Linked DNA regions of Homo sapiens. The protein of the gene in region 4 interacts with the protein of the main gene of each other region in a pairwise test. Each region holds a gene or a part of one and is shown on either strand. Other genes may lie near its edges. The genes, in order: STARD9, ZNF16, LIMA1 and SVIL.

Region 1 (7,880 bases), on a different chromosome or scaffold from region 4:
ATCAAAAATTTAAATGTATATACTCTTTGTACAAGTGCCCTTCTGGGAATTTATCCCACAAATATATTTGCCTATGTACAAAATGATACATGAATAAAGTTATTCACTGTAGTATTGCTGATAACAGCAAAAGTCTGAAAGCAACCCAAGTTAGAATACTGGGTAAATGACGGTGCAACTCTACAATGGAATGCTATGCAGCAATGAACAAAATGAGAAAGTTCTCTGCATATTCAAATAGAGTTACAAATTATACTGAGTGAAAAAAATATATAAGGTATAGGACAGTGGCATAATATGCTTTATTTTGTATGCATAAAGACCCCTAGGAGGATACCTTCCAAGAAACAACACTGCTTTCCTTGGGTCGGGTGAGGGAGAGGAACTAGGTACACTGAGGGCGGGGATGGGTATTTCCCTGTATCCCTTTTACAGGTTGAGTACCCCTTCTCCAAAATGTGTGGGACCAGAAGTGTTTTGGATTGTGAATTTTTTCGGATTTTGGAGAATTTGCATATGCATAAGGAGATATGATGGGATAGGATCCATGTCAAAATACAAAATTTATGTTGGATATATACCTTATACACACGGCCTGAAGGTAATTTCATATAGTGTTTTAAATAATTTTGTGCATGAAACCAAGTTTTGACTGTGTTTCAACTCAATGTGTCACATGAGGTCAGGTGTAGAATTTTCCACTTCCGGTGTCACAGTGCTCAAAACGTTTTAGACTTTGGAGTATTTTGAATTTCTGATATTTGGATTAGGGATGCTCAACCTGTATGTGTATATATTTGTGCCCTTTCTACTATATGAATATATTATCTATATAAAACATCAAACTTAAAAACATGCAATAAAAGAGAAAAAAAGAAACACTATTCAGCTGTTAAAAAGAAGGCCAGGCATGGTAGCTAACACCTGTAATCCCAGCGTTTTAGGAGGCTGAGGTGGGAAGATAGCTTGAGCCCAGGAGTTTGAGACTAACCTGGGCAACATGGCAAAATCCTGGCTCTTAAAATAACTAATTAAAAGAAGTCAGCACTAGATTTACTGATATGCAATGATATCCCAAAGATATTTTTAAAAGAAAAAGCAAAGTGAGAAAGTGAGTACAGTATACTCCCATTCATCTGCTTTACAAAAAGATGTATATACATCATCCCTGGAAATATACAACAAACTGGGGTAAATGACTGCTTCTGGGGAAAGCAAATAGGAGACTCAAACATGTGCCTGACATTGTATGTCTTTTGCTACTGTTTAAACATTATTTTGTTAAATGACGTTGTATTTGTAAAATGAATTTCAAATATTCATCCCCAGCCAGATCTTACTTATGAGCTCTATATTTCCAACTGCTCTATCTGGATTTCTCACAGGCACCTTCAACTCAGTAAGTACAAACCTGAACTCATCATCTCCCACACAAAACCTGGTTCTCCCTCCAGTGTTCCTTGTCATTGTTCACATGACCGCCTTTCAGCTGCTCAAGTCAAGTGTGTGCTCTTCTCAACTCCCCGCTCTTCCTTCCTCTAACACCCAACCAGTCACCAAGTCCTGCAGATCTCTCTCTCCATTACATCCTCCTCTGTTCGTCTTCACTAGCAGTGCCCTGAAGCAAGCAATCATCTCTCTCAGCTCTGCCGTGGTCATCTAGGAGGTCTCCCACAGCTGCTCCTGCCTCCTTTTCTTACTATCCAGTCATTCTACTCCCCTACTTAAAAGTTTTCTATTACTTTCAGCAGCCTTTTCACTTTTGGGAAGTAACACAATGAGATGGATTAGAAAGGGGCCAGAACTCTCATTATAGTCCACATGATTTTCTAGTCCCTTCTCATGTCATTTTCCCATCTCGCTCTTTACATTCCAACCACACTAACCTTCATTGAGTTCCTCAAACTCTTCTTCCTCAAGGCCTCACTTGCTAGGCCCACATCTCTCCCAATAACAGCACCAATAAGCTTTTACTGCATTAACTACCTCTTATCCTTTTAGTCTCAGTTTAAACACATTCTGTTCGGAGTATCTCTATGACCTTCTAGACTAAGTCAGACCCCTGGTTTTATGCTGGTTTAGCAACCCGCCTTCAAACAATTTACTGCAACAATAACTAAACAATAAAATCAGTTGTTTAATATTTATCCCTCAAACAGTCTAAGGACAAGAACAGTTTTGCTCACCGCTGTATCCTAAAATAATACCCACAGAATAAACATTTGTTGAATGAATGAACAGAAGGAGCAGGGGGCAGAACTAAATGGAAAACCAAAGGCCTGCACATAAGAAGGGCTCATGTCAGCAGTGGCCTCCAGGAGGCACGGCGTCTTGCCCAAACTCCAGGAGGCACAGCGTCCTGCTCAAACTCTTGCCTTGGCAGTCCAGGCCCCTGGCTCATTCCCAACATCTGCCTACTCACCATATTCTCTGGGAACTGGAGCTGGCCTGACAAGGCTGGGCTGCTATTATAGCCAGAGGTCATGCCAGACGAGAGGCTTCCATTAGAGCTGGTGCACAGGGAGCTGGAATTGGCCAAGGTATGTAGTTTATCCTCTTCCTGGGAAGGACAAATCACCATTAACCAGCTTCTGATGCACCCTCACTTTCCCCAGGCCACGCCTTTTCCTACCCAAAGCCACCCCTTCCCTGCTCACCTCTACTGCTCCTTCACCCACCTCCCAGGGCCTCCCTGACTTAGCCTCACATGCCCTGGCTTCCTTAAAGCCACCACTGCTCGTATTTCCCCACACCCTGCACCTCACACCAAAGCCTCTTCCTCCCAGGCCGTGGCCTGGGGAAAGGAGCTGGTGTGATGATGTAAAAAGACAGTGAGCCCAGCTTTGAGTTGACAACAGGGGTCCCACAGCCTCCTCCAAATGTTACGTATGTCCCAAGACTCAGAGGCGGCCACGGTGAAGGTGTACCAGTCTGAGGTCCAGGCCTATCCTGAAATCAGAGGCATGCCCCACTCCACACCTTCAATAGCTGGGAAATGATCTTCTGGTGGATTCTCAGCTTCTCTTGTTCAGTCCGCTCCCGCAGTTGGTCTCGGGCCCGGGCAATCTCCACCTTGGCCTCCTCATGGGCCTGCTGGTAGTCTTGCAGCATCAACTCTATGTCAGAGGGTGTGTGAGCTGACCTTGACACTGACTCTGGGCTCCTGAGGAAGATCACGGGGTGGAAAGAACATGGTGGGTGGGTGACAGTCCTGGTCTGTCCATCCAAGGCTAGCTTGGGTGATACCACCTTCTTAAAAGACCCAACCTCCATTTGCCCACAGGGTTTTAAAGTATGATTTTTTAGCCTCAGGAGAGGTTGCTGGACAGAGAGAACCAAGCCACCTTGAGACCCAGGCCTGCAGACTTGCATAGCATGTCAGAGCCCTTCTGTCCATCATTTCCTGTGCCTTCTCTCTGCCCACCCCCTCCCTCATTCCATTCCCTTCTATGTCCTCTTTCCATTTACCCTGTCTCCTATAGAGAACCCTCCAGGATGCTAAAACTTCAGCTCCTGCTCCCCATACTCCCCTCCCCCAACAGAGCCTGCTCCCAGCAGGGTTCTCGGTCCACACTACCTGGTGGTCTCCACAACATCCTTCCTCAGTTGCTGCAGGTATTCTCGGCGTCTGCTGGGCAAGTCAAGATCCCAGATGAAGAGATCTTTGTTGGGCAGGAGGCTCAGTTGTTTCTGAGGGCTAAGGCTTCGCGTCCGGCAGAAGTTCCCAAGTCGCTCAGCCCGCTCTCTCCTGAGGGTCTCAATGGCCTTTTTTTGCCTGAGGCAAAACACGATTCGCTGAAGCTGGCCCTGAATGTCCTTCACTTTAAGATCTATCTCTGACCCCTGGAAGATCCCAGAGATGAACCAGGGCAGAGGAAACAGCAAGCTATTAGCTTTCTTGGGTTCTCTTTCCTCACAGCCCACCCCTTCCCCTCCCGACTCCAGGCTGGGGGTCCTTACCGTGCATAGAGCTCCTTCCAGGTGGATGTCACAGGTTCATCAGCAGCAAGCGCCTCCCCTGTCCCACTCTGCAGCACCTGGAGCAGGGCATCGGCCTCCCCAAAGCCATGGTGCAGTTTCGCTTCTGTGAGTTCCACGCTGAGTGAGAGGTTCTGGGCCCCAACTTGCAGGGGGATCTGCTCCCTCTTGGACCACTCAGAATCCTGGCTGTGGTCATTAGGAGGTTGTGGGGGACTCTGTTCCTGCTTTTCAGAGCTGAGATCACCGCTGGCCCCCAGCTCCTCCTCAGTCATGTCCAACCCCCCAGGTGAGCCCTTCTGAACCCCACACCAGTTACTAAATTTGTTATGCACCGGGAGGTCCCTCAGACTGTGGTGCTGGTGCTCAGGGGCCATGCACATCTGGCAACTGAAGCACAGTAACTCCTCAGGTTGGCAGGCCTGAGGGAGGCCCAAGGCAGAACCTCGGAGCCCTGCAGTATCAGTCAACTCAGAGACAGGGCAGGGGCTGAGGTGCTGGAGGCCTCCCCATGAAGAAGGTCGGTCCAGAGTGCGTTGTGGTTCCCCTGGAGATGCTGAACTCTCACCTCCATTTTCTGTCCTGCTCTGCCACTGACTTGGCTCCCTACCGCTCAGTGGGCAATGCTCCGGGGAAGCCACCTTCTCAGGCACAAAGCTGTTGCCCAGCCTTTGGCTCCTGTGCCTCAGTGGTGGTGGCAGCAGTCTGCTTTGGACCCCGATAGTTGTCCTGGGCTGAAGCTGCTGAGGGTGCTGCCCTAAGAAACTAAATTGGAGTTTTGGACTCTGCTGTGGGCTGTGTGGGGAGTGCAACTCAAGGAAGGATCTCCCATTACTCCTTTGTAAGGAACTTCTACCTCTCTGGGAGCCACCTAACTCGTCAGTGGTTTGGGAATAATTATCCATTGGAGTCCTTGGGGCATCAACAGGGTCTGGGCTGGAGTCAAGCTTCTGGTGGCCTTCAACAGGGTGAGTTGAAGGGGCTGAGAGGGTCAAAGAGCCTGGGGAAAGACCCGGCTCTTGGGTGCTGGCACTAAGAGTGAGGATTGGGGAGGAGGCCCTGTCCACGAACAAAGCACTTGTGGGGCCCAGCTTCTTCTGGACCCTGGAGTCCCCAGGATACTCGGAAGTACTGGGAAAGAGCCCTGGGGAATGAGGGGAGCTGGGACTGGGACTGCTGACAACTAAGCAATATGACTCCTCTGGCTGGGAGCTGGGAGGCAGGAAAGCATCAGAAACTGAGGGGCTCACAGAAGGAAGATGCTGCCCAACGGGGGCTTTCTGAAACCTCAAGTGGGATGAGGGTATTGAAGGGCTCTGGGGCTTGTAGGGAGTGCTTTCTTCCTGAAGATAGAGGAGCTGAGCCATTTTCTGTGCTGTTTCCTCTGCCTCTCTCTTCTGAGGTACCCCTGGCACATCTCCCTCTTCTTGAGACACAGTCGAGGTATCTGAGCCTAGCCCTTCAAGGATCACATTGGCTCCCTGAGGTTCAGCCTCTGAAGTCTGGAGGCACAGGGTGGGTAAGGTGAGGTCAGTCTGGCTGCCCTCATCCACAGTGGTCTGAGTAGAGCCATCCATCATCAGGGCCTGTGGGGCTTTATCTGGGATGTCCCTCTTGGTGTTCTGCTCCCTTCTGGCCACATCTGGCTGGGAGAGACTCCCAAGCAGCTCTGAGGTACTGTGCAGGAGCTGTGAGAGGTGGAGAGACAGATTGTGCATGCTGGTCCATGAGGCCAGATCAAAGGCTGATACTGCACTGGCTTCAGGCTGAGCAAAGGAGATGTCAGTGCTGCTCCAGTGGCGCCTGCTGCCGAGGGTCTGTGTGCCCTGTTCGAATGTGTTCGTCCTGGTCTGTCCCACAGGGCAGCCTGCCTCTGATGGATACAGCAGCATAATCTCATCCACTGGACCTGCAGCACTTCCTTTGGCCAAGGGGGGCTTACTCCTCAGACAGTCTGCTTCACCAGAAGGGCCCCTGAACTGAGGCCTTCTGTCATGACCCGAAGTGGGGGCTACTCCTTCAGGGCTCGTCGGGATGTGGGGGTCTCCTAAGGCAATTGAAGAACTCCCTCGGAATACTTCCCAGGCCTCATTTGAACCCTGGGCATTCTCAGTGCTGCTGTGTGTGGTTGACAGATCACAAATATTGGCGTAAGTGCTGAGGTGGGAGTGGAAAGGGGAGTTCTGGTCTTCTAGGCCATTGTCCATGCTGGAGCACCGGGCCACATTTGATAGTGTCAGCCCCTGGGGCTTCTGGCTGCAGGAAACATCGACTGCACTGCCAGACATATACTGCTTCCAGCTGATACGTGCAGGCTCCTCCGGACGCCACGGCAGCGCATAGGGACTGATGTCACTGGAGCCAAAGTGCAGCATTCCTTTGTCCATCTGAGAGCACCAATTTTCTGGCCTAACCTGGACACCCAGTTTCTCTCGCTTTCCCTGTTGGGCTTGTTCCAAAGTACCAGACATCCAGCTGGTCGTGAAATCAGGGGTTGGCATGTGTGAGAGAGTGGAAGGCATTGGATAAGGAGGGGTGGCAGGCTTCAGGTGCCTGTGATCGGTAGTCCCATCATCCAAGCGAGATGAGGCTTTCTGATTGCTGTCCTCAGCCTGCAGAGATGTTCTTGCCACTGACTTTCCTGAGGAATAGCCCCTGAGATGTGGGTTCCACAATCTGTTAGGCCCCTGTGTATCTTCGTCTGTAGGGGAAGGAGGCTCCACACTCAAGTTCAGCTCCTGAAGAGAACGAGAAGAGCCGACAACTGAGAACTGTGGTGTGGGGGAGGACCTGGAGTGTTTGGGGCCAGAGAAGATTGTAGTCACAGGAAGTGAGCCCCTGTGGTTGGGTGCTGGCTGCTCTCTGCCAGTGTAGAGGTGGCCACTCCTCTGAGCAGCAGGCTGCGGTGTTTCATTTTGCCTCAAGGACACAGTGGCTGGGTCTTTGAAGCCCTGTGATAAAATCTTGGACACAGGAGGCTTGGCCACAGCCACCTCCTCTCTCCCAGCATCTAAAATCTGACAGCCATCTAAGCCATCTTCATCAGGAAGGGGATTCACACCCTGGGCGAAGCCTTCTCCACCACCTGAAGCCTGGTCTCTGTGCTGCTCTTCTTCCTGCCAGGGACTGTCTTCCTGGGGGCTGCAGGTATGTTTTAACCTTGCTACAAACTTGGCTTGGGAATCCAAGCGATTGTGATCCCTCAACTCAGTGGAAAATTGTGGCTTTTCCAAAAAACATCTAGTGGTATTTTCTAAACATTCATGCTGTGGCTCTACCACCAACTTGCTCTCAGCAGACCCTTCACTTAAATCCAGGGTGTGTGGTCCCTGAGTTGTTGCAGGTGGTTCTGGATTGGTTTGACACACCTGTGCATTCTGGTCACCTACAGAGCTGTCCCTAAACTGCCTCAGGGGCTCAGAGTACATGCCTGCAGGGAAAGAGGCAGCCTCAAGTTCTGTGCTTGCTTGCTTCTCAGCAACCTTTTTCTCAGGAACCCCTATTAACCCCACGCTTCCATCAGTAGCTGAGTGGCTGAAGGAACCTGTCCTCACGTCAGGAGCAGAAGGGGATCTGCAGCCTTGAGCTCGAGATAGGACAGCAGCCACAGTAGAAGGCTCACAAGTGCTGCTCTCTGTTAGCCTAAATTCCCTGTTAACATCTTTGGGCTCAAGGCCATGTGTCAAGTGCACATCAGGTCCCCTAGAGATCTCTCCTGTCTCATCCATTTCATAGGCCCTGGAAGGTACTACACAGGGTGGGTGGATAGTATGTGGGGCAGCCTTGAAAGGCTCCTTCCCTAGGTCACCATCTCTAAAACACAGTAAAGTAGAGGAATGGGAGGAATAAGCATGAGTAGCAACAGGTTGAGAACTGCATGGCTGTCGGCAAGGAAGAGTTCT
Region 2 (7,880 bases), on a different chromosome or scaffold from region 4:
TAGCCCATTTGGGCTACTGTAACAAGATACATTAGACTGGGTAATTTATAAACAACAGAAATTTATTGCTCACAGTTCTGGAGGCTGGGAAGTTCAAGATCAAGGTGCCAGTGGATTCACTGCCTGATGAGAGCTGGTTCCTCCTAGGTATTCCCTTCTATGTGTATTCACATGGTAGAAGGGCAAGAAAAGAAGCTAACAAGCTCCCTCAGGCCTCTTATAAGGAGATAATCCCATTCACAGGGCTCTGCTCTCATGGCCCAGTCACCTCCCAAAGGCCCCACCTCTTAATAACGACACACTGCAGATTAGATTTCAAGATATGACTGGAGAGGGGAGGGGTTGGGGGGGACATTTAGACCACAGTGATGGTCGTCCATTAGGTCTAGTTGGGTTGTAACGCTGTTCAAATCCCCTAGTTCCTTAGTGATCTTCTGTCTAGATGTTCTATCCATTTTTCAAAGTGGAGTACTGAAGTCTCTATTACTATAGAGCTATTTCTCCCTTCCAATCTGTCTATGTCTGTTTCAGATAGTTTGGAGCTCTTTTTTTTGATGTGTATCTGCTTATAATTGCCATATCTTCTTGATGACTCTGCCCTTTTATAAATACATACTGTCCTTATTTGTCATCTATTTTGTCTAATATTGGTATAGTCACCCCAACTCTCTTTTGGTTATTCTCTGCATGGAATATTTTTCCACCTTTCACTTTAAACTTATTGTGTCTTTGAATCTAAAGCCTCTTGTGGCATATAGTTGGACCATGTTTTCTTACACATTCTGTCAATATTTGCCTTTTGACTGGAGACTTCACATGTAATTACTGAAAAGGAAGGACTTCTGCCATTTTATTTATTTTTGATAAATCTTTTACCTTTTTGTTCCTCAGTTCCTCTACTGCTGTATTCTTAGGTATTACCTTTTTTGTAGTGTACCATTTTAATTCTTGCCTTACTTCTTGTGTCCATTTTTTTTTTTTTGAGACAGTCTCGCTGTCACCCAGGCTGGAGTGCAGTGGCATGGTCTCAGCTTACTGCAACCTCTGCCTCCCAGGTTCAAGGGATTCTCCTGCCTCAGCCTCCCAAGTAGCTGGGACTACAGGCGGGTGCCATCGTGCCCGGCTAATTTTTTGTATTTTTAGTAGAGATGGGGTTTCACTGTGTTGGCCAGGATGGTCTCAATCTCCTGACCTCATGATCTGCCCACCTCAGCCCCCAAAGTGCTGGGATTACAGGCGTGAGCCACCGCGCCTGGCCTCTTGTGTCCATTTTTAAGATTTTTTTTTTTTTTTTTTTGAGAGGGAGTCTCGCTCTGTCTCCCAGGCTGGAGTGCAGTGGCGCGATCTTGGCTCATTGCAAGCTCCGTCTCCCGGGTTCACGCCATTCTCCTGCCTCAGCCTCCCAAGTAGCTGGGACTACAGGTGCCCACCACCTTGCCTGGCTAATTTTTTTGTATTTTTAGTAGAGACGGGGTTTCACTGTGTTAGCCGGGATGGTCTCAATCTCCTGACCTTGTGATCTGCCCGCCTCGGCCTCCCAAAGTGCTGGGATTACAGGCATGAGCCACCATGCCTGGCCCATTTTTAAGATTTTTTTTTGAAGTGGAGTTTTGCTCTGTCACCCAGGCTGGAATGCAGTGGCACAATCTCATGCCTCTGCCTGAGTTCAACCTCTGCCTCCTGGGTTCAAGCAATTCTCCTGCTTCAGCCTCCTGAGTAGCTGGGATTACAGGTGCCCACCACCATGCCCAGCTAATTTTTGTATTTTTAGTAGAGACAGGGTTTCACCATGTTGGCCAGGCTGGTCTCGAACTCCTGACCTCAGGTGATCTGCCTGCCTTGGCCTCCCAAAGTGCTGGGATTACAGGTGTGAGCCACTGCGTCAAGCCCATTTTTAAGATATTTTCTTACTGATTACCATGATGATTGCAATGAACGTTCTAACATCCTAAAACAACTGATACCAGTTTAGTCTCAGTAACACAAAATCTCTGCTTCTCTACAGATGTTACCCCCCTTATGTTGTTGTCATCACAGATTACACCTTTATACATAGTGGGGTAAAAAACATAGACTTATAATGCAGACCTTTTATGCATTTGTTCTTTAGATCACTTAGGAAATATGTAATGGCAAAAACCACAATTAATTTTGCACCAACTTAATACAAAGTGTACTTAGAAACCAAAATATAGGGATACTAACTTTTATACTTACCTATGTAGTTACTTTTACTGGAGGTCTTTATTTTTGTATGGCTTTGAGTCCCTGTCTAGTGTTCTTTCATTTCAACCTTCAGGACTCCCTTTAAAAGCATTCCTTGTGGGGCAGTCTATTTGTAACAAGCTTCCTCAGCTTTTATCTACCTGGATATGTTTTAATTTCTCCTTCATTTTGAAGAATAATTTTGCCAGATAACAGAATTCTTAGTTGACAGGTTTTTTTCCCCCTCTTAGCAGTTTAACTAAGCCGTCCCACTGCCTTCTGACCTCCATGGGTTCTGATGAAAAACTGGCTAGAAATCTTACCCAGAACCCCTTGTTCAGGGATAGGTCTCCTCTCTTGCTGCTTTCAAGATTCCTTGTATTTCAACAATTTGATTAGAAAGAGACCTGGTGTGGATCTCTTTAAATAGACTCTACTCAGTTTGTTGAACTGCTTGTGTGTGTAGACATGTCTTTCATCACATTGGGGATACTCTCAGCCATTATTTCTTCAAATATTTTTTCCATCCCCTTCTCTATTCTTTTCCTTCTTGAACATCCCTACTATGCACGTTGGTCTACTTGATGGTGTCTCATGGTCCATTAAGTTCACTTTTCTTTTTTCTTTTTTTTTTGAGACAGAGTCTCACTCCATTACCCAGGCTGGAGTACAGTGGCACGATTTCGGCTCAATGCAACCTCCGCCTCCTGGGTTCAAGCGATTCTCCTGCCTCAGCCTCCAGAGTAGCTGGGACTACAGGCATGCATCACCACGCCTAGCTGATTTTTGTAGTTTTAGTAGAGACAGGGTTTCACCACGTTGGCCAAGATTCTCTCGATCTCCTGACCTCAAGTGATCTGCTTGCCTCGGCCTCCCAAAGTGCTGGGATGACAGGCGTGAGCCACAACGCCCAGCCATTAAGTTCACTTTTCTTAGATCTTTTTTCTCCTCAGACTGAATGATTTCAATTATCCTATCTTCAAGTTGCCGATTTTTCTGCCTGCTCAAATCTACTGCTGAAACCCTCTAGCAAAATTTCCATTTCATTTTTTAGTTCCAGACTTTCTATGTTTCTTTTACAATTTGTATTTCTTATTGATATTTTCATTTTGTTCACACATCATTTTCCTGGTTCTTTTAGTTCTCTATGGTTTTTTTTTTTCTTTTTTTCTTTTTTTTTTTCTTGAGACGGAGTCTCACTCTGTCACCCACGCTGGAGTGCAGTGGTGTGATCTCAGCTCACTGCAAGCTCCGCCTCCTGGGTTCATGCCATTCTCTTGCCTCAGTCTTCAGAGTAGCTGGGACTACAGGTGCCTGCCACCATGCCCAGCTAATTTTTTGTATTTTTAGTTGAGATGGGGTTTCACCTTGTTAGCCAGGATGGTCTTGATCTCCTGACCTCGTGATCCACCTGCCTCAGCCTCCCAAAGTGCTGGGATGACAGGCATGAGCCACCGTGGTGCTGGGTTACAGGCGTGAGCCACCGTGGTGCTGGGTTACAGGCGTGAGCCACCGTGGTGCTGGGTTACAGGCGTGAGCCACCGTGGTGCTGGGTTACAGGTGTGAGCCACCGTGGTGCTGGGTTACAGGTGTGAGCCACCATGCCCAGCCTAGTTCTCTATGGTTTCTTTCACCTCTCTGAGCATATTTGAGGCAGTTGATTTGAAGTTTTTGTCTACTTAAGTCCAATGTCTGTGCTTTCTCCAGGACACTTTTTGTCAGTTTACTTTTTTCCTTTGAATGGGACATATTTTTTTGCTTCGTTATATGCTTCATGATTTTTGCTTTGTTAAAAACTGCACAACTGAATATTAAAATGTGGTATCCCCCCTCCAGGCTTTGCTGTTTTTGATTGTTGAAGACTAGAGTCACATGTTCATTTAGTGACTTTTCCAAACTATTTTTGCAAAGACTATTCTTTGTCGAGTACAGTCACTGAAGTCTTTTTCTTTAGCTTGTGTTCAACCAGTGTTTTGACAGAGATTTTATCAAGAGAAAAACCAACACAAAACACTTCTCCCAGTCTTTGTGGATTGACTCTGTGTTGGGGTACTTTTTAAACGCTGTTTACAACTCTTTCTGAGTTGACTGCCTTCACTGAGCCTAGAGATTAGACAGAGTTCTTGAGAAAGCTTATGGTCTTAACAGGTCTTTTCTGAGCACACACCCAGTCCTGCGCATGCATGTGACTTCCTGGATTCCCCAAAATATATAGGTGCTTTTTTTTTTTTCAAATTTATGTATTTTTTTCTGAGACAGAGCCTCACTCCAGTTGCCCAGGCTAGAGTGCAGTGGCATGATCTTAGCTCACTGCAACCCTTGCCTACCAGGTTCAAGCAATTCTTGTGCTTCAGCCTTCCAAGTAGGTGGAATTACAGGTATGTGCCACCACACCTGGCTAATTTTTGTACTTTTAGTAGAGACAGGGTTTTACCATGTTAGCCATGCTTGTCTCGAACTCCTGGCCTCAAGCAATCCACCCACCTCGGCCTCCCAAAGTGCTGGGATTACAGGCGAGAGTGATCACACCCAGCCTTTCTTAATTTTTTAGTAGAGATAGGGTCTTGCCATGTTATACTGGCTGGTCCTGAACTCCTGGCCTCATACAATCCTCCTGCCTTGGCCTCTCAAAGTGCTCAGATTATAGGTATGAGCCACCACACCCGGGCCAAGGGTGCTTTTGAATGCCTCTATTTCCCCACAAGAAACTCCTCAGCTTTTCTTCCTAGGCTTTAGATGGCCAACTGTATGGGTAACCACAGTACAAAGCCCTGGACCAGAGTAGAGTCCTGAGGGGAGAGGGCTGCCACCAGCCTGGTTGTTGAATTGGGAAGGGGTCAGGAGTATAGGGCAAATCAAAGGACGCTGGTGGCCATCATGTCATACCTCTTCGTGTCAAGTGGGGAAATCACAGTTCTGCTCAAGGTGCCAGGGGCCAGGCTAGGTTAACTTCCTTGCTGACATCCAGCCTTGGCTCCTTGAGTCAGAGTACCCCGTCACCCTCCCTACCTGTGATGACACAGATGCCTCCTAGGGGTAAGCACAGGGTTCCATGGACATCACTTCCCCAGAATAAGGGCACCAGCGGAGAACTGTTCTTAAAGTACCTGGCTGCTGATAGTGAGGGCAGATGGCTTCCAGCTCAGTATCACTACAGCAGGGGGTACCACAGGCTGCAGATCCAGGGTGGGTCACAGCAGGAGCATCTCTCACACGGGCCTGGGCTGCAGGGGTCCAGGGGGATGGTCCTGGAACTGAGAGCTCCATCTCTGCCTCCTCACGGCGAGTTCTGAGGCTGGGCATGACAAGGACCTGAAAACCGGCAAGAACACAGGTGAGTCTACAGACAGGCTAGCTCTAGGGATTCATCCTCCCATCAGGCCGGGGTCTCTTCCTCCACCCCTGCAGCCCAAGACCTGAAGAGGGCCTGGTGCTGCCAGGTCTCAGGGGCTGATGCTGTGTTTCCTGATCTTGGACCTAAAAAGAGGGAGTCAGCCATGGAGACACAGACTCAAAAGCCAGGGCCACAGTACAAAGGGGCAAGATGCTGACCCTAAGGTAAAGTGGGTCATGGTGCCCAGACCTGCCATGATAGGAGGGCAGCCCCCACAGGGTCTGTGTCCTGCTGTGGGGCCTGTGTACTGCTGTGGGGCCTGTACCCTGCTGTGGGCCTGTGTCCTGCTGTGGGTCTGTATCCTGCTGTTGGGCTTGTGTCCTGCTGTTGGGCCTGTGTCCTGCTGTTGGGCCTGTGTCCTACTGTGGGCCTGTACCCTACTGTGGGCCATACCCTGCTGTGGGCCCGTGTCCTGCTGTGGGGCCCGTACCCTGCTGTGGGCCATACCCTTCTGTGGGCCTGTACCCTGCTGTGGGCCTGTGTCCTGCTGTGGGCCTGTGTCCTGCTGTGGGGCTGTGTCCTGCTGTGGGCCTGTATCCTGCTGTTGGGCCTGTGTCCTGCTGTTGGGCTTGTGTCCTGCTGTGGGGCCTGTGTCCTGCTGTGGGGCCTGTACCCTGCTGTGGGCCATACCCTTCTGTGGGCCTGTACCCTGCTGTGGGCCTGTGTCCTGCTGTGGGCCTGTGTCCTGCTGTGGGGCTGTGTCCTGCTGTGGGCCTGTATCCTGCTGTTGGGCCTGTGTCCTGCTGTTGGGCCTGTGTCCTGCTGTGGGCCTGTACCCTACTGTGGGCCATACCCTGCTGTGGGCCTGTGTCCTGCTGTGGGGCCTGTACCCTGCTGTGGGCCATACCCTTCTGTGGGCCTGTACCCTGCTGTGGGCCTGTGTCCTGCTGTGGGCCTGTGTCCTGCTGTTGGGCTTGTGTCCTGCTGTTGGGCTTGTGTCCTGCTGTGGGGCCTGTGTCCTGCTGTGGGGCCTGTACCCTGCTGTGGGGCCTGTACCCTGCTGCGGGCCTGTACCCTGCTGCGGGCCTGTATCCTGCTGTGGGCCTGTGTCCTGTTGTGGGGCCTGTATCCTGCTGTGGGCCTGTATCCTGCTGTGGGCCTGTATCCTGCTGTGACCACTCTTCTCACTCCTTGTTGCTGACATTCACAATGCTCTGAAGCTGGGCAGGCCAGACCCACCTAGAGTGGGAGAACAGCAGCTCCAAAGGGTGAACAGCCAGGGGCAGCCTGTGCTGCAGCCCCACATGTCATCATTATGTGTCAACGCCTACCAAATCCTAGTGGTCAGTTCTATCTGAGTTGCACCATCCTGGCAGCACCCACAGCAGGTGTTCCCATCTTTACTTGCACCAGCTACTCCCTCCTAGCCTCTCATTCCCCATTTCATGTTGGCACCCCAGTGTGCACTTCTGCACTGCCACCAACTTCCTTGGTGATTATGTCCAGTCTTGAGGCATCAACACCCTTGTTAAGATTCACAAACTTGGGCTCATCTCCAGTCCTAACTACTCCCTGTGAGCAGGAGAGAGGACACTCCCACGTGGCGGCATGACGGGCTCCTCACATGTTACTGATTCCCCCACCCCTCACTGTGTAAATGCACCATACCCTGCCCGGGTGCCCACTGGGAGCACTGACATACCTCAGCCCTTCACTCACATTGTACTGACATTGACTCTTCTGTCCTTCATGAGCACCAGCTGAGAATGAGGGTGTGGTCAAGGGGATCTGCAAAGGGGATGTGAAGAAAGGTGGCAGAAGGATGGTGCAGGGAGTCAACGTGATGGTACGTGTCACCCATAGGCCATGTGGGGAAGAAAGAAGGGCTGGGTGGTGCTCCTGGACTCAGATCACCATCAAGGAGAAGGCAAGGAGATATGAACAGAGCTCACAGGGATGGTTACTATGGACCAATGATAAGGGGCCTTGGCTGCCAGATGAAGGTGAAACACTGGCCACATTTCTGTGTCAGGAGAGACAAAACTAATATCTCAAGATTAACTTGGCAGGGTGCTCAGAGGAATGGTGGGAGATGAGATTCAAAGCAGGTACAGCACTAAGGTGCCTACCACGTGGCAGCAGAAATGGAGGAGACATGGGCGATGGGGGTGACAAGGCCCTCTGTGACTGCATCTGCCTGCCCTTACAGTGCAGATGCCCAGTTTCCTCGAGGGAAACCTCTCCCCATCCAAGTGGTGATGTAATAATCTGCAATATTTATTTAGTTCATTTTATTTAAAAATACTTTAAATTCTCATTGTTTCTGAATAGGGGCATAGTC
Region 3 (8,255 bases), on a different chromosome or scaffold from region 4:
CCACAGCACTCCAACCTGGGCAACAGAGTGAGACCCTGCCTCAAAAAAAAAATTATTAAATGGAATGACTTCAAACTGATGACTTAACCAAATATTCAACTTGAGAGTCATGCTTTCTAATGCCAATTTTTAATTTTTCCAAAGCTTTTATAGTGCATTCTATTAATTTTTTAATTTTCTGAATGTTGGTTGATCTTAACTGCAGTGCAACTGAAAGTAATGAAAATTATTTAAGAATATCAATCATTAAAGTAAGGTATTACAAGAAATTAATATTAGCTGATCTTGTTGCTAGGCCAGAATAAAAAGAATGAGAAAAATGCATTTATAATGTAGGATATGTGTGCCATGCAGCATTAGCGGTTGGTAAAGTACATGTCCACCCATCTCAACCTAAGTACTTGGCTAATTTTAATAATTTCAGTTTCAAGTTATTTAGCTATAATTTCCAACTGTTTCCTTTTTTTGGGTTGGTGGTAAACAGAATAAATTTTATCCATAATATTGTTATTTTTTCTTGAGACGGAGTCTCACTCTGTCTCAGGCTGGGGTGCAGTGGCACAATCTCAGTCCACTGCAACTTCCGCCTCCTGGGTTCAAGTGATTCTCCTGCCTCAGCCTCCCGAGTAGCTGTGACTACTGGCGTGCACCACCACGCCCAGTGAATTTTTGTATTTTTAGTAGAGACAGGCTTTCACCATGTTAGCCAAGCCAGTTCTGAATTCCTGACCTCAAGTTATCCGCCTGCCTCGGCCTTCTAAAGTGCTGGAATTACAGGCATGAGCCACCGTGCCCAGACTATCCAGAATATTTTTAAATGATTGACTTGTTTTATTTCAGATACTGAATTATAATTGGTAACAGAACCAAATGATGACATTAGGAAATTTTTCTGACAAATCTGTGGCCACTCCAGTCTTCTTTCCCATTATTGTGAAAGCACCATTAAAACAAAATGCAGCTTACTTTCAACTATTCATTATTAAATTTCAAATATTCATTACTGAAGCCACATTTAAAGTAGACAATATCGGCTGGGCGCGGCGGTTCACGCCTGTAATCCCAGCACTTTGGGAGGCCAAGGCTGGTCGATCACTAGAGGTCAAGAGTTTGAGACCGGCCTGGCCAACATGGTGAAACCCTGTCTCTACTAAAAATACAAAAATTAGCTGGGCTTGGTGGTGCACGCCTGTAATCCCAGCTACTTGGTTGAGACAGGAGAATCACTTGAACCCAGGGGGCAGAGGTTGCAGTGAGCCAAGATCGTGCCAGTGCACTCCAGCCTGAGGGACAGAGCACAACTCTGCCTCAAAAGAAAAAAAGTAAAATAGACAATAATGTAGTAGAAATATAATCTGTGTGGCAGACACCAATTACTTTTTTTTTTTTTTTTGGAGATGGAGTCTCGCTCTGTTGCCCAGGCTGGAGTGCAATGGTGTGATCTCTGCTCACTGCAACCTGTGTCTCTGGAGTTCAAGCGATTCTCCTGCCTCAGCCTCCTGAGTAGCTGGGACTACAGGCGCACACTACTACACCTGGCTAATTTTTGTATTTTTAGTAGAGATGGGATTTCACCATGTTGTCCAGGCTGGTCTCGAACTTCTGACCTCGTGATCCGCCCACTTGTGATCTGCCCACCTCAGCCTCCCAAAGTGCTGGGATTATAGGCGTGAGCCACCGTGCCCAGCTGACACCAATTCTTTTAAAGCAACAAATATCTTTACCAGTACAGAAGCTTATTCAACTGTGTACTGGAGATAAATCTCTAGGTAATTTTCTTCCAATATGTAGATGTCTCATCAATTATAGTGCATATTTGCCATTCTCTTCCAAGATTCTTAAATATGTTGACATAATTTCTTTTGCAGTATGTTCTGCTATTCTTGTTGCACCGTATCATGTATGTAAACATTTGCCTGTATCTACTCCATTTTTCCCTTTCAACTCTATTGTTCCCTTCACTATCAGATAAAGGCCTATGAGTTTTTTGTTTGAGACAGGGTCTTGTTCTGTCGCCCAGGCTGGAGTGCAGTGGTGTGATCTCGGCTCATTACAATCTCCAACTCCTGGGCTCAAGGCATCCTCCCACTTCACACTCCCAGGTAACTGGGATTACAGGCACACACCACCACACCCAGCTTTTTTGTCTGTTTATTTTATTTGTTTGTAAAGACAGGGTTTTGCCATGTTGGCCAGGCTAGTCTCTAACTCCTGGCCTCAAGTGATCCCTGCCTGGGCCTCCCAAAGTGCTGGGATTACAGGTGTGAGCCACTGCACCTGGCCCATGCCCATTCTTTAAGTATTGTCTATGGCTACTTTGGCACATTTGGCACTACAGTGAGAGCTGAGTAGCTGTGACAGAGACTATAAGTCCCACAAAGCCTAAAATATTTACTATTTGGCTGTTTACACAAAAGGTTTGCTAACATATGGTCTAGAAAAATCAACAAAACAATAAATCACGCCCTGACTTGCTGCATTTGCCCATTTCCATGGTGTAAATACTCCCCTTACAGCCAATTTCGTGCTACCAATGTGACATTTCTGAATAGAGTTGGGAAGAGATGCATACAACATATGTAGTATTTCCACAGGGAATACAATGGACAAATAACCTCAAGAGCAGAATTATTAGTAAAATGAAGAAAAAAACTACAAAGTGATGAGTTTTTAATATTTATTATATTTAAAAATTTTTTTTTAGAAATAGGGTCTCACTCTGTTGCCCAGGCTGGAGTGCAGTGGTGTGATCATAGCTCACTGCAACATCAAACTTCTAGCCTCAAGCCATCTTCCCGCCTTAGCCTCCCAAAGCACTGGGATTACAAATGTGACTCAACATGCCTGGCCTATTACTTTTATTTTTAAGATAATTTAATTGTAGCTTATATAATTTGATTTCTAATAATGGTTGTGCTTATGACCTGGCTCATAAAATCCCTGAAAATTTAGCAATCAACCTAATGCTAGCTCTATCTTCAAAAGGAGGCTTTGGGAAAGCAAGTAATTTTTGTATCCACTAAAGCACAGAGCTAAAAAAAATTGGGGGGAGGGGAGACATCTATTGAGGGAACGCCACATGCAGGGTAACGTATTTTCTGGAGTACTATCCTGTATTGATATTGTATGCTCTTTAGCATTCCCATGCTGTCTGCCACTTTTGCTGGAGTCTTGATACTTGATACTGTTAATGCAAAATAAGTAGCAGGCCATTAGTTTGGAGTTGTTTTTGTACCCAGAAAGCAACCCAAAATTTAGAGGTATTCCTTGCACCTTTTGTTTGTTTTGTTTTTTTGAGATGGAGTCTCGTTCTCTCATCCAGGCTGGAGTGCAGTGGCGAGATCTCTGCTCACTGCAATCTCCACTTCCCGGGTTCAAGTCATTCTCGTGCCTCAGCCTCCCGAGTAGCTGGGATTACAGGCACTTACCACCACGTCCGGCTAATTTTTGTATTTTTAGTGGAGACGGTGCTTCGCCATGTTGGCTAGGCTGGTCTCGAACTCCTAACCTCAGGGGATCCGCCTGCCTCAGCCTCCCAAAGTGCTGGGATTACAGGTGTGAGCCACCGCGCCCGGCCCCTTGTACCTGATTTTGAATGGAGTTTCAACCAATCACAAACAGACAACCAGCCAAGTGGTTATATAATTAGGGACCTCCCATGTGACCATACCCAAATAAGGCAAACGCTTAGCTGTAGCCAATCAAATTTCTTTACTTTCGTGTTCAGCCTATAAAGTTTGATGCCTGGGCAGCTAGAGCAGGGGTGTCTGAGCCTCTTTTGGTTCTGACTGTTGTCCGATTCAAAATCTAAGTTTGTTTTGTCTGAAATTTTTATTTCTACAATACCTATCCAGAAATCAGTCTAGGCTGGATATTTGAAGGAAGAAGGGAATAACTGGCTGGCATATTCATCACCTGTTGGAAATCTCTCTTCTCACACATTTTCATTAACTTCTTGAGGAAGTGTAATTACAAGCGTTTTCCCACGAGCAGCCCCTACTAATAACGCATCAAGCTGCATGAATTCCGAAAAGCTTCAGAAAACTTGTGGTCTGAAACCCTACTATGCTTGAGGTACAGGAAAGAAGGATACTATCAAAAGGCATCATGCAGCTGGCACGGAACTGGGACAAGAATTTGGGGGCAGGATGGCCAAGTGCTAGGCCAATTGACGGTCTCCAAACCATTAGCACAGCTCCTATTCTGAATGGAGGAGTAAAAACAGCTGTTGGAGAACTTGGACGTCATCTGCCCTTGTCAAACCGTTTTCAGGATTAATGTACTTAATTCAGCTTTTTCCACTACACCACACAGCCTCCTGTAAAACACCCTCCCTGCACACAACTTACCCCCAAAGCACCAGGAACCTAGCTGGCTAGAGTTGAGCTTAGGAAAAACCTGAGTGGCTCCAGAGTCAAACTGCGATAACGTTGAGTCAGAGGAGTTAAGGACAAAGTAGAGCTGCACAGAGGCCCACGTCGTGCAAGTGCGTGTCTCCTTCAGAGAAAAGCGTGCCGAGGTAGACTAGGCCCCGGGCAGCAAAAACCCTGTCCCGTCGCCAGCGCCCCGCACCGCCAGAGCGACTGGAGCAGACGCGAGCGCTGGGCACGTAGCCGGTGGCGCGCACGCTCAGCCCGAGGCCGCACGGGAGGCTGTCTGGCGTGCGCGCCCCCGCGGCGGTGGGCGGGGTCCGGGGCGGGGCCGCAGGAGCAGTAGGTGTTAGCAGCTTGGTCGCGACAGGTGCGCTAGGTAGAGCGCCGGGACCTGTGACAGGGCTGGTAGCAGCGCAGAGGAAAGGCGGCTTTTAGCCAGGTAAGGGCCTTCTCTCTCCACAACCGGAGAGTGCGGGAAGACCCCGGCTTCTCTCCACACCCTCTTTCTCCTTCGACTTTTGGGGCGGGGGGAGTGCAAGGAGTGTGAGTCCCTCCCCCTCGAGATAAGGGGTCGAGGGACGCTGATCCTCCGTTCTTTCCTCACTTCTGGGGCCTGCGCTGGGTGGGGAGTGCTTATGTCGGGCTGAGCCTTTGCTGCCCAAGGGCGGGAGCTGCAAATACCCCGTCCTCTCCCACCGAGAACACTGCATTCTAACTGTATACTTTCTGGTGTGGTGGAGGAAGGTGACAATTCATTAAAACTCCAAATACCCTCCTTCCAGGGAAATACTGTAATATTCAACTGTTCTTTTTCCTTCATTTTCAGCCATTCCCTCTCTTTTCGATTTTTTCTCCCTTCCATTACGCCAGCTGAACTCTGTTTAAGACACTTACACCCTTTTGAGGAATGTTGAGAATATAGCAGTCCTTGCAGCCGATGTGTCATCCCCGAATCGCTATCGTGTATATATCGCTGGCACTTGCCCCCGACATATGTTGGTGTTAATGTAAGGTAATTGTACACCCCTGGCTACACATACTAAAGCTTGAAGTTGTAGCTGCTAGGAACGAACCATCTGGCACCCTTCCTAGCCTCCTTACTGATGCTTGCAAGAACGGTTTAGCTGATCCTGGTGAGAGATATTTGAACTACTATTGTCTTGCACCTAATTCCAGCTTTCAAAAGTCTGCCTTGGACGGGCGCAGTGGCTCACGCCTATAATCCCAACACTTTGGGAAACTGAGGCGGGAGGATCGCTTGAGCCCAGGTGTTTGAGACCAGCCAAGGCAACTTAGCGAGACCCTTGTCTCTACAAAAAAATAAATAAATAAATAAAAATAAAAGATAAGTCTGCCTAATCCAGATCTGCCTAATCCAGATGGTTCAATTGACTTGACTTTTCAGGTTAGTCAAAGGTAATTAGGGAGTTATCAGTTTTTAAGGCAATGCCCATTTTGGGGAGAGGTTTTCTTTTGCATTAAGTATTCTTTCTTTTGCTCTTGATTTAAATGGTTTAACACAGTACCTTTTATCTGCTTGGTTACCAATACTATTCACAAATGCTAAATATTTCAGGAGCCATGAAATAACACCAATCCTTTCTTCTGAGGTATGATGTAGACACAAAAGAACATGACCCCTAACAACATGTTCTAAGTTCCTGTAGAGGTATAACCTGGGTGCAGGATGATCACGTTTTAGATAGATCTTCAAAAAATTATAGAGTTGGCGTGAAAGAAGGCAAAAAAAAGTGTGTGTTCATATATGTTTTCTTGTTTTGCATTGATAGAACAACATATAATGTACTAGGTAATTAGTTTAGGAACTTATTTCATTCTTTGGACAAAATATTGAGTGCCTTTCATGTCAGTCCTACTGTAGATTCAAAGTGCCAAACGTCTTTACCCTAAAAGAACTTAAAATCAAATGGGTTAGACAGATCCACATACAATTTATGGTATTAGTGAGGTCATTTCTATACTAGAGGTCAGCCCAGGGTACTGTAGGAGCATAGGGAATATAGGTGTTTTGTTTTGTTTTTTAATTCTCTCTTCTGCTTTTCCTTAAAAACAAAAACCTCTGAGTAATAATGAGTGATTCTCTTCAATCTATGTATTTGTATCACTTTCATATTTCTTACCCTCTCTTCCTCCAATTCTATGGCCTATGGAAAATGGGATTAGACCCTGTTGTTAATGTGGCATTTAGTAAATAGTTGGATCTGTTTCCACTGTTCTGTATTGGGCTGGGAAGTGTTGTTATCAGGTAGTCCCTGGGAAGAGAACAGTATATTGGCAACATTAGCAAAGGAGTGCCATTTTGTAAAAATTACCTCATTGTATAACTTTCTTTAACTTGGTACACTCAAGCTTTGTTCCAGACTCTGGTTAAAGGTGGGGCTAAATTTCAACCTAATAATTCTAAAAGAAAGCTTCAGAAGCTAAAACAATTCACATCTTGGTGACAGGGGATACTTTTTCCTGCTAAGATGCCCTCAAAATGTTTTTCTCTTTCTTTTTTTCTTGGGTGGGGAAGACAGGGTAGATAGGTGGGTGGGGAAAAATGTTTTTAAGTATAATTTTGACTAGTGTTTCTTCAGGTTTCAAATTCTTATATTTTCTCTGGTATTTTTCACCAGTTAACTGCAATTAACTTAGAGCCCTCGTACCAAAAAAATTTATCAAAGACACACACACAGACACAAAAGAATATTGAGAGTGTGGGAGTTCATTAGACATCTTTGGCATAATAGGGCACCTAACCACAAATTGGAAGAATTTATTATTTAAATTGACAGTGAAACTAGTTTCAGGCATTCTTAATTCCATACACTATTAGATAGATGACTTTTAGATTAGAATTGTACCCTTTCTGCAGATAGGAAAATGTATAACGAGTCCTAAGTTAGTAATTTCCATTAGAAAAGGCAATTGTTTTTTAAGTTTGCTATTGTCTTTCACTGTATGTTTTTTGATAGAAACTTAAGGTACTTCATTTTAGATTGCATACAGTAATCTCCAGGTGAGGTTACTTAACACAGCCTCTTCAGGTTACTAACAAACCAGTGGTTGTAAATGAAGTAGTTTCTACTTAATGATTATGGAGTTGAGAGTCTATGGTGGATGATAAGGTAGGACCATACTGATGAGTTTATTCTGAAGCTGGGTGCAGAGTCCTCAAGACTCAGTCAAATTATTGTGCTACTGAAGACCTCTTTTCATAAAAAGGATGGAGTTTGACCTAACAAGCAATCCATTATTCAGCATGTCAGATGATTTCTTGACACGTGAAAACTTTCTAGAGACTTCCTGTGTCCACTCATAAGAAGTTAACATGATACCATGAAAATTTTACATTCTTTTGATGTTCTTTTAAATAATTTCTTAATACTACTACCCTGGGCCGGGCGCGGTGGCTCACGCCTGTAATCCCAGCACTTTGGGAGGCCGAGGCGGGAGGATCACGAGGTCAGGAGATCGAGACCATCCTAGCTAACATGGTGAAACCCAGTCTCTACTAAAAATACAAAAACAAAATTAGCCGGGCGTGGTGGCAGGCGCCTGTAGTCCTAGCTACTCGGGAGGCTGAGGCGGGAGAATGGCGTGAACCCGGGAGGCGGAGCTTGCAGTGAGCGGAGATCGCGCCACTGCACTCCAGCCTGCGTGACAGAGTGAGACTCCGTCTCAAAAAAAAAAAAAAAAAAAAAAAAAAAATACTACTACCCTGAAACTAAGAACTTTCATCTTTAGGGGAAAAAAAGATGCAACTTTTTTGTACTTCTGATAACAAGTGTGGATCTATTTTCCCCCTTAATTATTCTGTAACAGAGTTTATGATATGGAAAACTTTACAGTCCTTCAAATATGTTTTGTCTTGCACAA
Region 4 (7,880 bases):
TTGATTTAACGTTTCTGAATTTAAAACTATGCTGTCCTTAATGCTTCTTTTCTTCTCTCTCCTTATGAATGTTTCCTCTTTGGCAATTGCTTTTAAAGTGAACCTATCCCCGCTTCGTGTTCTGGGGGCACCCACCCTGTAATGGCGAGACTTCCTAGCCCCACTGTAGCTAGGAGCGCTGTGCAGCCTGCCAGGTACTGGACAGATACAGATGCATGCGGCACCCGGTGCAAAGGTGCCGAACAGCAGATGCATCCTAAAGTCTTGAATGTCTGTCGTTTGTTTGACAAACAAGTCAATGCCGTGAGTTGTTCCAGAATGCGTGGCATTTTGTTTTGTCATAGCACAAGGTGCTGATAACCACATGCTGGCGTGCGTGGGAAAACATTTTGTCTCTCTGCATATGTTATGTGTTAGAACTAGGATCACACTAACTCACGTATCCAGTTGCTTTGTTTGTTTTTCATAATAATGGTCATCCCTCAAAAATTTTGTTCTTCATCTAAATACTGTTATAGCACTTAATAAAGATTAATAGAAAAATGGGACATTGGCCAGGCGCGGTGGCTCATGCCTGTAATCCCAGCACTTTGAGAGGCCAAGGCAGGTGGATCACGAGGTCAGGAGATTGAGACCGTCCTGGCCAACATGGTGAAACCCTGTCTCTACTAAAAATACAAAAATTAGCTGGGCATGGTGGCATGTGCCAGTAATCCTAGCTACTTGGGAGACTGAGGCAGGAGAATCGCTTGAACCTGGGAGGCAGAGGTTGCAGTGAGTCAAGATCGTGCCACTGCACTCCCGCCTGGTGACAGAGCAAGACTCTGTCTCAAAAAAAAAAAAAAAAAAGAAAGAGAAAAAAAGAAAGAAAAAAAAAGAAAAATGAGACATTAACCTGAATGTTGAAATGCTGATAAGACCCAGTCTTTTTCAAACACCTGTAGACACAAATACAGACTGAAAACAATCCTCCCTCTTTCTAATTTATAGAGTCAATGCCATTATATTTTGGGACTGGGAAAATAACAATTTGTAGTGTCTAAACGTAGATGTTTTACTGTCGTGTTTCAGATTGTGGTGCTTTAAAATTATGTCCTCACATCAGGTCATATCCCTTCATTTTACTGTTATATGAGCCAAACCGCAAAAGCTAAAAATAATGGCAGTGCCGGGATAAAGCTGGTACACCCACAGCAGGGCCCTCCCGGAGAAGTGGGTTTCCCTGCCCTCCTGGTTACTGCACGAGGTCCACGGAGGACTCTGAGGCTCAGGTGGCTTTTTTGTCACTGGCCTCATTATACACCTGGAATATGGAAGCTGGCTACTCTTTGGCCTGGGATAGCCTGTGCATTGGGGATTCACTAGAATCAAGGCAGAATATCTCCTTTACTAGATCTGACAATTGGATCGGTCAGGGACAGAAGATATAGTGCATTACAAACCCCTAGAGATTCATATTGACCGTGAAGACTTCAGGCTTTCCTTCTCTTCTAGCTGGAAGTTGGAGGGAGCTATTTATTTATTTACTGATTTATGTATTCATTCATTTATTTTTGAGACAGAGTCTTGCTCTGTCGCCCAGGCTTCATCACTGCACACTGCAGCCTCTACCTCACAGGCTCAAGCGATCCTCCCACCTCAGCCTCCTGAGTAGCTGGGATCACAGGTGCACACCACCAAGCCTGGCTAATTTTTATATTTTTTGTAGAGATGGGGTTTCACGATGTTGCCCAGGCTAGTCTCCAACTCCTAAATTCAAGTGATCCTCTTGCCTTGGCCTTCCATAGATATGAGCCACCAGACCTGGCCAGTTGGAGGGATTTATAATCACCTGAAATTTTCTTTACTCCTCTGGTTACTGGAAATTGCAGATTTAAGTACCTTTTAGAAAACTGGTAGGAACCTATGAGAGTAAATGCTAAGCTGAAGCAGTGACTCTTTAAAAATTAAGCCATTTGTCTTTAGCAAGTAAAAATCAAGACCTTCTGTTATGTTGTTGACAGAGGACTATATCGTTTCCTAATTATTTAAAATGAAAGACCACCTTCTGAACCATATCTTTAGATAAGGTCTAAATACACCGTAGGTAATACTTTGTGACTCCCTTTCATTCTACTTATTACGATACTAACAATGCCGCCTCTCTGTCTAAGATAAGGTATAGCCAAGCTGACTTCAATGTCTTAAACAGGAAATTCGTTTTGTAGAAATAATTCGGAGCTCAAAGTCTGCTCTTTGTAGAAGTGATGATGCTAAGTGTCCTGTGCCGACTCTGCTTGTTGAGTAGCTGAACAGCTGCCTGCCTCTGTCCTAGACGTGCTTAGGGAAAAAGAAGCCCTTTGCAAAATGATGTGACACTTGGCAGAAAGTTAACGTAGAAACTTAGCGGTGTGCTTTTGTTTGTTGGTATATGTGTTGCTGACATTTTATTTTTTTCAGATTGCAGGCCTCTGCTCACCAAAAGGCCTTAGCCAAGGACCAGACAAATGAGGGCAAAGAGCTTGCTGAGCAAGGAGAACCTGATTCCTCCACTCTAAGCTTGGCCGAAAAGTTGGCCTTGTTTAACAAATTGTCCCAGCCAGTCTCAAAAGCGATTTCTACCCGGAACAGAATAGACACGAGACAGAGGAGAATGAACGCTCGCTATCAAACTCAGCCAGTCACACTGGGAGAGGTGGAGCAGGTGGGTGTGCTATAGTCCGATTGCAGTTTGTGTGTGTGTGTTCTTAAATTATAGCACTGCAGTATTCCTCTGAGGTCAATGATGTAATTAAGGTGCTCTACCAGGAAACTGCTACCTGTAGGTGATTTGGTAATAGCTTTCTTCCTAAAAATGAGAATTCTACCAAGTATGTTGCTCTTTTTTTGTTTTCATACCTTGCTTGCTGAAATATCTAGAATGAGTCCATTTTGGAGAGAAAAAAATAGTATGCCCAACTGTGTTTCACCCAGAGGATTTTGTTTAATGAGACGTATTATATAACTATGTCCAGGAATGGTTTTCCACTAAGAGAAACAGTGAAACTGCATCAAATCGAGTATTTCAGCTTCTGTCAATTCATAAACCAGGATTTATATAGATGATATTTTTCAAGCAGCTTTTTAATTTTTAACTGTGTCCTTCCAGGTGCAGAGTGGAAAGCTCATTCCTTTCTCACCTGCCGTGAACACATCAGTGTCTACCGTAGCATCCACGGTTGCTCCAATGTATGCCGGAGATCTTCGCACAAAGCCACCTCTTGACCACAATGCAAGTGCCACTGACTATAAGTTTTCTTCTTCAATAGAAAATTCGGACTCTCCAGTTAGAAGCATTCTGAAATCGCAAGCTTGGCAGCCTTTGGTAGAGGGTAGCGAGAACAAGGGAATGTTGAGAGAATATGGAGAGACAGAAAGCAAGAGAGCTTTGACAGGTCGAGACAGTGGGATGGAGAAGTATGGGTCCTTTGAGGAAGCAGAAGCATCCTACCCCATCCTGAACCGAGCCAGGGAAGGAGACAGCCATAAGGAATCTAAATATGCTGTTCCCAGAAGAGGAAGCCTGGAACGGGCGAACCCTCCCATCACCCACCTCGGGGATGAACCGAAGGAATTTTCCATGGCTAAAATGAATGCACAAGGAAACTTGGACTTGAGGGACAGGCTGCCCTTTGAAGAGAAGGTGGAGGTGGAGAATGTTATGAAAAGGAAGTTTTCACTAAGAGGTAAGTGACCAGTGCCCCTAAAGCTTTAGAAAGCCACTGGGTTTTAGTTTCTGCTTGATTTGTCCTGTGTCTATGATGGCTTTTAACAAAGTTCTATAGGCAGTTTACAGCTAGTATTGGTTAAAAGTTCAGCGGGAATCCTATTCTTCCCTGGATCTGACTAGAGGATACATCAAGTTTTCAGCAATAAAACTACTGGAAGAGCTTTCACACATCTTCATGGAGTTTCTGTTGACTTTGGTCACTCACACAATGGCCTTCTGAGCTGCTTAGTTCTGGTGGCCCCTTTTAGAAATTGATGACCCCAAAGGTCCAGGCTGGGTAAGCACAAGGAATTCAGGAAAGACTTGACCCCAGTCTCTGAATCGCTAGAGTGCTTCTTCCTGCATGCCTGTTTTGCAGGCTAGCAAGCTACACTGCGTGGGCCCTTCATCCTCTTTCTACGTTTGTATGAAACAGTACAGTGTAAGTTATAATAGGGGTTTGCGTTTGTGAGTATAGCACATTTGAATGTTAAGGTATTATTTTGGAGAATAGAACCATTCTGGAGTAAATAGTTAAAGCTGACTTCCTGTGTCTCGCACACAGGAGAGAAACCAATTGCCACGAAGCATTTTGCTGTGTGGGTAACCCTCCAGGAAGTTTGGTTTTCTCACAGAGTGTAGCGTGCTGCAGATTTGCATAAATCCCAGTGGATTGGGTCACCCGCCGTGTGCCCACGGATTGAACCCTGAGAGCTGCACTGTTGAGGGCGAATCGCTGGAAGAATGTTTGCCTGAGGAGTTCAGTGCTGATGTTGCTCTTTTCCTTCCCAGCGGCAGAGTTCGGGGAGCCCACTTCCGAGCAGACGGGGACAGCTGCTGGGAAAACTATTGCTCAAACCACAGCCCCCGTGTCCTGGAAGCCCCAGGATTCTTCGGAACAGCCACAGGAGAAGCTCTGCAAGAATCCATGTGCGATGTTTGCTGCTGGAGAGATCAAAACGCCGACAGGGGAGGGCCTTCTTGACTCACCCAGCAAAACCATGTCTATTAAAGAAAGGTAATGAGATTCGGTGAGCGAAAAGTAATTCTCTCGGGGAGGAGCTTACAGCTTGCTTTTAGAAAACAATCTCGGTGATGGGCAAAGAGATGAAATCATACATTCAGCTTCTAACAGGACTGTGCTGTTGTCCTGGAGTAATTCTAGGAAGCTGAGGTGTTTGAGAGTGAACTGCCTTTGCTCATGAGCCTGGTTTGGTAATGAGCCTGGTTTGGACAGGGCTGGTTCCAGACTCAGATGAGAAAACAAACAGAAACAGACTTCTGTTTTATTTATTTGTTTCCACTGTCCCAATATCTTTTATAATATTAAATTCTTGGACTATCTAATGACAGGAGCTGAAATCTTGGCTCTTCCCCTTTTAGATACACAGGGTTCATACTGAATGCACAAACCACTTGTGACTTTGTGTAAAATATGTGTAGAGGGAGTGAAGATAAATTTACATAGAGGGCATATATCTTTGGACTTAGAATCCAAGTTTTGTTTCTTTTACAGATTGTAAAATGGATGACTTTTCTGAACTGCATTTAGAAATTGTATGTCAGGTAATAGCTTGAAAGATTGCATTTCAGCATCAAATAACACAGTAGCCTAATTTCTTTCAAAAGAATGACGTAGGGTGCAGAGGAATATATTTAAATTAGACAGATACAGAGAACTGGAAGTAAATTACCTTGGGGATGTGTTTTCCTTGTTAACCCTTAACCACAGATGAATTAAGCAGCAAAAGATGCAATAGTGGGAATAAATTCAGAGTTTGATAGCAGAGTAGGGTGACTAAATAAAAACGTATTGTACTGAGGTGATGGACATTCTAAATAGAGGCTTGATCACTATGCATTTTATATGTGTAACAAAATTTCTCATGCACCACATAAATTTGTACAAAAAAAGGAGAAAGTATTCAGTAGGAAAAAAACATGATGGAATAGTTGATAGGAAAACTGGGTGAAGAAAAATCTTGTCAACTCCATATTAGGAGAACCATTTCCATCGCCTGTTCCCACAGTTCTGCCAACCTCCACCCTTCCTCAGCACCTCCCACCACACGGAAGTCTGCAGGCTTCACTGACCACTCTTATTTTTCTAGATACATTTCAAACTGCCTAAGACTATACTAAACCACAATGAAAAGTCTTCTTTCTTTCTTTTCCTTCTTTCCTTTTTTTTTTTTTTTTCTTTTTGAGACTAAGTCTTGCTTTGTCACCCAGGCTGGAGTGCAATGGGATGATCTTGGCTTACTGCAACCTCTGCCTCCCGGGTTCAAGCGATTCTCCTGCCTCAGCCTCCCAAGTGGCTGGGACTACAGACGCACACCACCACACCCAGCTAATTTTTTGTATTTTTAGTAGAGTTGGGGCTTCACCGTGTTAGCTAGGATGATCTCGATCTCCTGACCTCCTGATCCGCCTGCCTCGGCCTCCCAAAGTGCTGGGATTACAGGCGTGAGCCACCGTGCCTGGCCCCTTCTTTCTTTTTTTTTTTTTTTAGAGGAATGGTCTTCCTCTGTTGCCCAGACTAGAGTGCAATGGTGCTGTCACAGCTTCACTGCAGCCTCGAACTCCTGGACACAAGTGATCCTCCTGCCTCGGCCTCCCCAGTAGCTGGGACTGCAGACACGTACCACCATGCCTGGCTAATTTTTTCAAAAAGATTTTTTGTAGAGTTGGGAGGTCTCACCATGTTGCCCAGGCTGGTCTCGAACTCCTGGCCTCAAACAGTCCTCCCACCTCAGCCTTCCAAAGTGCGGGGATTACAGACATGCACCACCACACCTGGCCCTTCTTTCTAGTTTTAAGCCAAGCTTCTTGAACATTATTTGTAAAATAATAGATGCTATCTTTTTCAACTGACAAATTAATCACATTGTTAAATCTGACTTACTTTCTCCTTTACTTACTTAAAATTCATGATAAGTTAGACCTGGCAGGCTGAGGGGCATAGGGAAGGGGCAGAGGGGACAGTGCAATGAGGAGAGGGATGTCTTCAATCGGGGAAGCAGTTGGGCCTATTGAGGCTTGAAGTTCTCTTCCACGAAAATGGGGCTCAAAGAGAGTTTCATCCCAGAAACCCAAATATTGACAACTGGTTAGGTGAGGAAGAAGAGAGATCATTTAAGGAAATTAACAATAAATATCACTTATACACAAGTTCTGATGTTTTACACATGAGAAAATATCCCTGGGGTATTCCCCAGTGGGAAATACTAATATTATGCCCCCTTCTTTCAAAGGCTTTTAAAGGAGCCTTCCCATCTTTGGGAATATTCTGTCCATCTGGACTTAGGACTTTTGATGAAGAAGTCCTGTGTCTATCCACTAAGCAATAATTCCTGATTTACTTACCTGTTTTTTGGTAAATTTTAGTTGACCTGTATTTTTCTGAAAGCTTTAATCCTACTGTAAAATTCTCATTTTTAAAAGTGAGATACTGGAAAGACGTAGCTTCTTAGCTTGGGCTTTGTGGACATGTAAGGCGTTCAAGGATGGCTGTAAAGTTTCTGTGAACAGCCCGGAAGTGTATTCAGAATTGAATGGGTGAGCACACACACCTGCTGGCTAACAGAAGCCATAACTTATCATGGTCTCCAAGAGATCCCTGAGCCCAGTCTGTTCAGAATCATGATAGAAAGGAATGCTTGATTGATATTCAGCTATTCAGTTTGTTAAAATACATTTATGAAAGAACAAGGGACACTTTATTTAGCAGCTATGCTTGTAATAAATTACACTAATGCAAAATATATTGCCAGTGATCTTTTCCCCCTTACCTTCACAGTACTTTTATTTGTACTTTGCTGAAAGTGACTAAATTACATATATTTACAATTCATCCATGATAGCTTTTCCATGAGACTTTAATCCCTCCCTTTTGTGAAAATGAAATAATGAAGCTTAAACTATTTAAAATAAGAATGTTATTCCTCCATTTATTTGGGCTTTACTTTTCCTTCTTGAGAAAGAAATATATAAAATCATAGGACTTCCAAACTTTATTCTAACCGCCTCTGACTGCCTCATTTTACCAAAGGAGGGATTCGGCTCCGGTAGCCTCCAGGGCCACGTAGTGAATAGAGCTGACCCAGGGGCCACGTCTCCAACTCTCCCCTGGTCCATGGTGAGACCGCGGTGC

Evidence for each region.
Region 1: the proteins of SVIL (region 4) and STARD9 interact in a two-hybrid assay, tested with the Homo sapiens proteins (one study listed by BioGRID).
Region 2: the proteins of SVIL (region 4) and ZNF16 interact in a two-hybrid assay, tested with the Homo sapiens proteins (one study listed by IntAct).
Region 3: the proteins of SVIL (region 4) and LIMA1 interact in a two-hybrid assay, tested with the Homo sapiens proteins (one study listed by BioGRID).

The regions. Positions count from the first base shown.
Region 1 is NC_000015.10:42,690,423-42,698,302, reverse strand, and holds part of STARD9 (stAR-related lipid transfer protein 9), read right to left. Parts: coding exon 3,961-7,880; intron 3,844-3,960; coding exon of another isoform or gene 3,831-3,843; exon of another isoform or gene 3,776-3,830; coding exon 3,578-3,775; intron 3,164-3,577; coding exon 2,980-3,163; intron 2,561-2,979; coding exon 2,423-2,560; intron 1-2,422. UniProt on the Homo sapiens protein: Microtubule-dependent motor protein required for spindle pole assembly during mitosis. Required to stabilize the pericentriolar material (PCM).
Region 2 is NC_000008.11:144,940,699-144,948,578, forward strand, and holds part of ZNF16 (zinc finger protein 16), read right to left. Parts: intron 7,328-7,880; exon of another isoform or gene 7,242-7,327; intron 5,518-7,241; 5' UTR 5,509-5,517; coding exon 5,313-5,508; exon of another isoform or gene 5,215-5,312; intron 1-5,214. UniProt on the Homo sapiens protein: Acts as a transcriptional activator. Promotes cell proliferation by facilitating the cell cycle phase transition from the S to G2/M phase.
Region 3 is NC_000012.12:50,279,977-50,288,231, reverse strand, and holds the start of LIMA1 (LIM domain and actin-binding protein 1), read left to right. Parts: upstream 1-4,711; 5' UTR 4,712-4,812; intron 4,813-8,255. UniProt on the Homo sapiens protein: Actin-binding protein involved in actin cytoskeleton regulation and dynamics. Increases the number and size of actin stress fibers and inhibits membrane ruffling. Inhibits actin filament depolymerization.
Region 4 is NC_000010.11:29,519,275-29,527,154, reverse strand, and holds part of SVIL (supervillin), read left to right. Parts: intron 1-98; coding exon 99-194; intron 195-2,439; coding exon 2,440-2,683; intron 2,684-3,127; coding exon 3,128-3,704; intron 3,705-4,519; coding exon 4,520-4,745; intron 4,746-7,880.